Homo sapiens: one gene and its partner. The protein of the gene in region 2 purifies or fractionates together with the protein of the main gene of each other region. This does not show direct contact. Each region holds a gene or a part of one and is shown on either strand. Other genes may lie near its edges.

The links.
Region 1: the proteins of ZRANB2 (region 2) and LUC7L purify together in Homo sapiens (affinity purification with mass spectrometry; 3 studies listed by BioGRID and IntAct, with this or other methods). This does not show direct contact.

Annotation. Positions count from the first base shown.
Region 1 is NC_000016.10:201,950-205,574, forward strand, and holds part of LUC7L (putative RNA-binding protein Luc7-like 1), read right to left. Parts: intron 1-3,625. UniProt on the Homo sapiens protein: May bind to RNA via its Arg/Ser-rich domain.
Region 2 is NC_000001.11:71,073,311-71,078,918, forward strand, and holds part of ZRANB2 (zinc finger Ran-binding domain-containing protein 2), read right to left. Parts: intron 5,399-5,608; coding exon 5,346-5,398; intron 5,256-5,345; coding exon 5,147-5,255; intron 3,568-5,146; coding exon 3,485-3,567; intron 1-3,484. UniProt on the Homo sapiens protein: Splice factor required for alternative splicing of TRA2B/SFRS10 transcripts. Binds to ssRNA containing the consensus sequence 5'-AGGUAA-3'. May interfere with constitutive 5'-splice site selection.

The DNA.
Region 1 (3,625 bases), on a different chromosome or scaffold from region 2:
GCCAGGCTGGTCTCGAACTCCTGACCTCAGGTGATGCACCTACCTTGGCCTCCCAAAGTGCTGGGATTACAGGCATGAGCAACCGTGCCCGGCCATATTTTTAATTTCTTTGTAAAGATGGGGTATCCCTATGTTGCCCAGGCTGGTCTCAAACTCCTGGACTCAAGCAATCCTCCTGCCTCGACCTTCCAAAGTGTTGAGATTACAGGCATGAGCCACCATACCCACCCTCCATAAGCTTTTACGCTGGGCAGAAGGCAGCAAAAGGGGAGTCAGCATATCACATGGCAAAAGAAGGAGTGAGACAGAGAGAAGGACCTAGGCTCCTTTAAACAATCAGCTCTGAGGTGAACTCACTATCCCAGGGAGGGCACCAAGCCATTGATGAGTGAACCACCCCCATGACCCAAACACCTCCCACTAGACCCCACCTCCAACATTGGAGGTCACATTTCAACATGAGATTTGGACGTGCCACACATCCAAACCGTATCAAGTGTTATTTTTTATCTTTTATACTGTATTTTTACTGTACCTTTTCTATGTTTACGTACACAAATATTTAGGGGCCCACTGTGTTGCAACTGCCTATAGTATTCAGCACAGTAACATGCTGTACAGGTGTGGAGCCTAGGAGCAATGGGCTCTACCATACAGCCCACATGGCTATACCACCCAGGTTTGTTAAGCACACTCTATAATGTTCTCACAATGATGAACCATGGAACGCACTTCTCAGAATATTTAATCCTTGTCATTAAGAAAGATATGACTGTACTAATATCAGAAATGAAAGACAGGACATCATTACGGATCCACCCACTTTAAAGGAATAATACAAACAACTCTTAAAAACAACAACTCCATGCCCACAAAAGCGATAAACTAGATGAAATGGACCGATCCCTTCAAAGACAGCCAGGAGCAGTGGCTCACGCCTGTAATCCCAGCACTGTGGGAGGCTGAGGCAGGTGGATCACTTGAGGTCAGGAGTTTGAGACCAGCCTGACCGACATGGTGAAACCCCGTCTTCTCTACTAAAAATACAAAAATTAGCTGGGCATGGTGGCAGGCACCTGTAATCTCAGCTGCTCAGGAGGCTGAGGCAGGATAATCAGTTGAACCCAGGAGTTGGAGGTTGCAGCGAGCCATCGCACCACCGCACTCCAGCCTGGGCAACAGAGAGAGACTCCGTGTAAAAAAAAAGTATAATAATGTTGAAAGACACAATCTGCCAAAACTCACACAAGAAGAAACAGATGATCTGAATGAATCTGTATATTAATAACCTTCCAAAACAGAAAGCATCAGGTCCAGATGGGTTTACTGGTGAATTCTACCAAAGCATTAGGGAGCAAATCATGCCAATTCTCTACAATCGCTTTCAGAAAATAGAAGCAGAGAGAGTATCTTCTAACTCCTTCTATGGGGACATTACCATAATACCAAAACCAGATAAAGGTATTACAAGAGGCCAGGCATCATGGTGACTCATGACTCTAATCCCAGCACTTTGGGAAGCAGAGCTAGGCAGATCGCTTGAGCCAAGGATTTCAAGACCAGCCTTGACAACATGGCGAAACCCAGTCTCTCCAAAAAATACAAAAAATTAGCTGGGCTTGGTGGCATGTGCCTTCAGTCCTAGCTATTTGAAAGGCTGAGGCGGGAGAATCAAATGAGCCCAGGAGATCAAGCCTTCAGTGAGCCAAGATCGCGCCACTGCACTCCAGCCTGGGTGAGAAAGTGAGACCGTCTCAGGGCGGGGGGCGGGGTGGAGGTGGGGAGGGCTGGGCGCGGTGGCTCACACCTGTAATCCCAGCACTTTGAGAGGCCAAGGCAGGCGGATCATGAGGTCAGGAGATAGAGGCCATCCTGGCTAACACGGTTAAATCATATCTCTACTAAAAACACAAAAAATTAGCCAGGTATGGTGGCACACGCCTATAGTCTCAGCTACTCGGGAGGCTGAGGCAGGAGAATCGCTTGAGCCCGGGAGGCGGAGGTTGCAGTGAGCCGAGATCACGCCACTGCACTCCAGCCTGGGCGAATGAATGAGACTCCATCTCAAAAAAACACAAAAACAAAAACCAAAAAACAAATGACCAATTACACCAGCACCCGCAAGCATGAAATATTTAGGTAGAAATCTAACAAAACATGCATGAGATCTTCACTATGAGAAAAATTACAAGACTCATAAAAGGTATCAAATGGCCTGGCGAAGTGGCTCACGCCTGTGATCCCAGCACTTTGGGAGGCCAAGGCAGACGGATCACCTGAGGTCAGAAGTTTGAGACCAGCTTGGCCAACACGGTGAAACCCCATCCCTACTAGAAATGAAAAAAAAAAAAAAAAATTAGCCATGGGCCGAGCATGGTGGCTCACTCCTGTAATCCCAGCAGTTTGGGAGACCGAGGCGGGTGGACCACGAGGTCAGATTGAGACCATCCTGGCTAACACAGTGAAACCCCATCTCTACTGAAAGTACAAAAAAATTAGCCGGGCGTGGTGGTGGGCGCCTGTAGTCTCAGCTACTCTGGAGGCTGAGGCAGGAGAATGGTGTGAACCGAGGAAGCGGAGCTTGCAGTGAACTGAGATCGCACCACTGCACTCCAGCCTGGGGGACAGAGCGAGACTCCATCTCAAAAAAAAAAAAAAGAGAGAAAATTATAAGGAAGAGAAAATAAAATACATTTATAGTACTGTGCTGTACTGATCACTTCTGTACGTTTACACTGCTCATTTACAAGATGAATTGTCCGTCTGAAATGGTAGCAACTGCAGCTGCAGACCTCAATCTAATGTATACATCAAGCAACTCAACTTTTTCTTGTAATATCATGGCTGTTCTTGCCTTCTTGGGAGCATTTTCAGCATCACTAGTGGCATATGGATCCTATGGCATTACTCAAAGTTTATGGTATTGCACTAAACACGATGAAAAACGCCTAGGAACCCTGTGAGTTCACTTTTTACTGCAGTAGGAATGTACTGGAGAGGTGAACTGCTCCTTCGGAGATGATGAGTGTCACGTGGTGTTTCAAGGGGATACTCACGACCCTTGAGCTCCACACAATGGCAACAGGAAGTGGCATGAATTATTACAGTAGTACAGTACCTATTACAGTTATTCTTAGGCAGCCCTGATTTAATACTGCACCTCTGCACTACGTTTGTTAACATCTCTCTACGGCGAATGCTGTCATGTATGGTCTGTAAGCGTTTGCATGTAGCCTCTTCTTTTTTAGAGACAGGGTCTTGCTATGTTATCCAGGCTGGACTCCAAAAGTCCTAGGATTAAGGGATCCTCTCATCTCAGCCTCCCGAACAGCTGAGACTAAAGCCAAGAGCCACCATAGCTGGCCATATGCTTAAGTTTTGACAAATGTTACCTTTTCATAATAGACTTGTGTATATTTTATGGCAGTAAATAAAAGACTAGTATCCTCATATATTTTATGTATTCATGACATACCTAACATTTTCTGCAGACTTTGGGTGATAATGACAAGTCAACGTAGACCCACTGACTGTGGGCAGATGCTAGGAATGGAGGAGGCTGTCTGAGGAGAGGGTACATGGAGAATCTCTGTACTTTCCTCTCAATTTAGCTATGAAGCTAAAA
Region 2 (5,608 bases):
TCTCCCATTGAAAATTAAAGAGGTATGTGTTGATCAAGAGTAATACAATCTAACTGGTCACATACTCCAGAGCAGTATCAGTACAATAAGGCCGGTGATTTCCAGACTTAGGGACTTCATTCATCAGCAAAATATTAAATAGATTTATAATAAAAATATTTTATAAAAATTAGGACTTGTAACTTAAAATTTGCCTATCATATTTAAAAAAATATTTTTAAAATTTCACTTTCTGAAAAAAACCCACACTAATATAGCATCTTTTCTTCATTATACTTTGTACTAGTGAAAACTTCAAAATACTTGGAAGTTAATAAAAATATTTTTAAACATACGTGGGATCTAAATTGGAAATAATTTACATAGGAAAAAACTGAAAAGTAATATGACAAATATGGAAAGCTCAAAAATATAGTAAAATTAGAAAGTGAACTATAACTCTAGTAGTTAATTTTTCAAAAGTATGTAAATAAAATTATTTTAAGAGGCAGCAAAATAGTCTGCTGACAACAAAGACATTGGTATGTTCTATGAACCCATACAATATAAATCTAGCTCATTAACTCTGTATAAATGGAAAATACACTAGCTCCCTATCGTGAAAAAACTGAAGCATACCATTTTCACTGAATACCTGAGATAGTGGAATCAATGGAATGATATGTATGTTTCCGTCATTCTACTAATTTCAAGCACTTCAGATAATGCTGTATAAATTGGTTTTATTTCCACTCTTGCCGCCACCTCTCCTAATTACTTCTCCACAAACAGAAAGAAGAGTGTTTAATCCATTACTCAGGTAACTCATCTTTCACTTCTTAGCTTAAGCATAGCTTTCCTAAAGAGGACTTCATTAATCTTTGGTGCTGTAAGACTCTTTTGCTCACCTAGGTATCCCCAGCACCTTGCACAGTGGCCTATAAATGTCTTCAAGGAATGAATACAGAAAACACAATTCTGGAATCATCTAATGAATTTGAATTTCTATGGAAAGCTTTAGAAAGCAACCAAGAATTTCCGTAGATTTTAGTAAGTCTTACAATGAATATATTTTCAAATTTGTCTCACAGTATAATGTAAAAAGCTGAGCAAGGGCCAAGAAAGAATCAAACACAGGTTTAAAATGAATGTTTGGATCAAGATTGTGACAATGGAAAAAAAGCGGGAAAGGGGGATGAATATAACATGTACTTCAAAGGAAGAACTAAGGCACTAACAGGAAAACTCTGTGATTCTACACCCTGAACAATTAATTCAACTCCTGAGAACATATTCTAAGGAAAGAATCCAAAAGAATAAAAATCACAATGTACTAAGTTTGTTTTTATGCCATTATCTTTAATGGTTTTTTTTTTAAAAAAAAGCTGACAAAAACAAAAATAATCCTAAATCCTGAAACAGAGAAGTAAATTACTGAACAATTTGATGGAATTATGCAGGATAAGCCAGCAGCAATCTTTCAGAGGTAGTGAATCACATTCTCTTTTATTCATATCCTGTCTCATGCTTAGGAAATGCTCCCCAAACCCTGCACTGCTTTATTACAAATAGCCAAAAGAAAGCGGAAAGCAACAGAGTAAGTTATTTCACACCTTCAACTGTTACCAGCAAAGACAAATACTTGTAGCAAGGGAAGTGAGAAAGGTTCAAGACACCAGAATGACTGAAAAATGACAATAAGAAAAGTGAGAAGTTATCAAATAAAATTTGCTTACTTCTCTGTTAAACTATAGTTCTTGTGATAATGAAACTATAAAGGAGTCAGGAAATAGGTCAAAGTTTTTTTAAGTTTTGAAACTGTTAAAAAGATTTTAGACTTTATCCTAAAAGCAATCAAAATGGGTTTTTTAAAAAAGGATTTTAAATTTGGAAATAAAAACATGTAGAAACCAGCTAGGTGGCTATTTTTCCACAAAACATAGTAATTCTTTGCCTAGGGTGGTAATGGAAAAGAATTTTTGGGGTATGGGAGATATCAAGAAAGGGCTATTTAGGCTAAGAAGGACATCTAGATTTCCAGCTTATGTAATAAATGTATGGTGAGTGGTACTAATCATGAGAAAGAGATCATTGGAAGAGGGTCAGGTCCCAGGGGTAAAATCACAAATTCAGTTTGAATATAATGAGTTTGACATTTGCATGGCAATGTTGAATAGGCAGCTGGATATATGGGTCAAAGAAGTCTGAGCTGGAGACATAAACTTGGGTTATCATGGCAAAGTTACTTAAACTTTGGGCTTAGAAGAAAACACCATGAAAATAGAGGAAAGAAAGAGGGCCAGGGATGGCTGCGAAGAATCCCAACATCAGTGGCCAAAAGAAGAGAAACCTGCAAAGGAGACAGAATAAACAATCAATCAAACGGGGGTTGGTGGGGGCGGTGAAGGAGGTACGGTGCATACCTTAGGTGAGGGAAGAAAAAAACGAGATCCTTGTCAGAAGGCCTTAACTTACCCAATCGGTGGAAAGGCAAAATCACTTCCTAAGAATAAGGCAGGATTTGAGGGTTGAAAGTGGCGGTTGGGCTGGGGAAGGGGGGATCAAGGACATTATGTTATAATGTTCTCACATATGAGAATGTAAGTTTTAAAAAAGGGGTGGGGGGGGATAAAAGTAGAATTTCTGTTGAAGTCTGGAAGAGCTAGGTCGAAAAGATTGAACAGTGGCCCTCTGATCCCTAGAAACTAAACAGACAATGAAAACGGCCTAAAGTTAGAGAGGCAAAGAAAACAGGGAAGCAGTTCACCAAGCCTAAGTCTGACAGGGTGACTAGATATAGAAGGAATCCTTTGATCATGTGACATATAAGCAGTTGAAAGACAAAATCAGATTTTAAGTAAACAGATAATGTGGTTGGGCTAATTGGTGATAATGGAAAAACTATATGCTATTAGGTAAACATTTTCATTTCACCAGTAACATACAAAGCCAATGATCAACTATTATTTAGGCCAATGATTATCAAACACCATCCAAAAAACCTGCAGATGTTGGAAACCCACCGCCAAATAACTTTAACAGTTCTGCATTTTGCAATCGATATTTGAAAAAGTTTTTCAGATAATCTAGCACATAGCTTAAGTTTCAGAATTACTGCCAAAGCTTTAGAAGAACACTTTAAATGGTGTGGCTTTGCCCTTTAAGTCACAGCAGGCTATCAAAAGAATTTAAAAATGGTATCATTATATCATTACTAATAACAAACATGCAAACCAGTGAAAGGGAGAGGAGGAGAATATTTCTGAAAGTATTCTTATGTCCCTCCTTGTTAGGATAAAGGTCCCTAACACTGTTATTTTATAAATTGTGAAACAAAAGATTTGTATGTGTGTATGGGGGGAAAAAAATCCCAGTAACAAACATTCAGGGCAGAATAAACAGAATCCTCACTTACTGTGGCTCTTACTCGAAGGTGATACAATTATCGTTTCAATATTTAGTGCTTTAAAAAAAATCATTTAGTTACAATGTGGTTTTATCATACCTGTTCTTTCTTCTAATTTAGCATACTTTGGAGTATTACACATATTACACTCTGATCTTCTGGCCCAATTCACATTGCTGCAACTTTAGAAGTGAAAAATACTAAATTAGTAGGCTATAATATAGATGAATATCAAATTTTTAGATATTTTACAATTTTAAAATAAAAACTAGGATGAAACCACTGTCAAAGAAATGTTTATTAAGTGGTAATGTAAACAAAGAAAATGTACAGTGGCCTGAAGAGTAAATGTGGGTTCCAACAACGGACTGAACCATTTAAGCAGAGAAGCAAAATTTATATAGTATGAAAAGTGCCTCTGTCATTTTGAGAAGTAAATGACAAATTATAACCACAGGTCGAGTATCACTAATCCACAAATCCAAAATCCAAAAACGTTCCAAAATCTAAAACTTTTTGAGAGAGGACATGACACTCAACAGAAACGCTCACAGGAGCATTTCAGATTTTCAGATTAGGGATGCTGAACCCACAAACATTTCAGGTAAGTGATACTGAACCTGTATAGAAATTCTGATGTCTTATGAAAAAATATAACTTTAAATTAACAGCTCCACTAATTTCTCAGTCTCTGAATATACCTTAAAGAGTATGGTTATACCCTATAAATAATATTAATTTATTTTTTTGAGGTCTCAGTTCAAGCACTGAATTCCAAAGCATACCAAATCCAGTGACCAAATCTGTAGCTGGAAACTTTTCCAATACAAATTTATAATCCTGAGGATCAGAAATTTATTTAAGACTCTAGGGTCAGGAATAGTGGCCCATGCCTCGCCTGTAATCCCAGCACTTTGGGAGGCCAAGGCAGGCAGAATGCTTGAGCTCAGGTGTTCGAGGCCATCCTGGGCAACATGGTAAAACCCTGTCTCTACCAAAAATATAAAAAAATGAGCCAGGCATGGTGGCATGGGCCTGTGGTCCCAGTTACTAAGGAGGCTGAAGTGAGAGGATTGCTTGAGCCTGGGAGGTAGAGGTTACAGTGAACTGAGATCGCCCCACTGCACTCCAGCCTGGGTGACTGAGTGGGACCTCATCTCAAAAACAAAAAATACAAACAAACAAAAAGAGAAATTTATTTAATACTTTTTTGATTTAGACCTCTTTCATACACATAGGATTCATCTGCATAGAGAAAAGATGGAAGTTGGAAAAATCAATGAAGAATTAAATCTAAGCCTGAAAATAAAAATCATTAAGAAACCTACCTATAATTAGACTTAATTACTTACGGCACACAACTTATGAATCTAACATTATTTTGTAAACAGGCAAAATGAGTTTTGTGGTGTATTTCACACTAACTATACAGTCTAAAAATTGGGATTTTTCAATAAAGGAAGTAATAGGCCTTAGTACTTTTAAGTACCACCACCCCCCGATTGGTTTTGAGCTTACCATAAGCATTTGTTTACTGGTATACATAATCCATCATAGTGACAACTATTACCATTAAAAAATGCAAAGAATAATTTAAAACTTCTTTATACTATACTTAAAGATGAGACTGAATAACAATACCTTGGATTTAAAAGGTTACCCTGGCTTGTCAATGTCACTAATAAGAGCTGTAATATAAACAAGTAGTGGCCAGATCTATTATTTTGGAAGAAAGAGCAGACAATAATTTAAAAAACATACGTTTTACATTGCCAGTCATTAGCACTAAATAGGCCTCGGCTCTTTTCTGCAAGTGTCTTTCCTATTTCAGTGCCCCCAGCTTTCATCATCTTGGCCTCAGTTGTTTTCTCTGAAAACAGAAAAATCATGCAATATGAACCTGGAGAAATAAATAAATGATACATATACAGTATAAATAGAATCTTCTTTAAATACTTACCCCGACCACATCGATTACAGCTGGTTCTTCTAGCAAAGTTTACATTTCCACATCTAAAAACAGATTAAAAAGCATTTATAAAAATTTAAATTTGTAAAATTTTACATTTTAACTTGTCCTCACTACATATCTGGAATTCATAACTTCTAATCCATCTTAGTCATGTTAATGTCAATGTTACCAACAAAAAACTCCACACAATTTACTGGGGGAAAAATACTTGATTGGAGCCACAAATTCAGAATAAGATATCCCAATCCTCC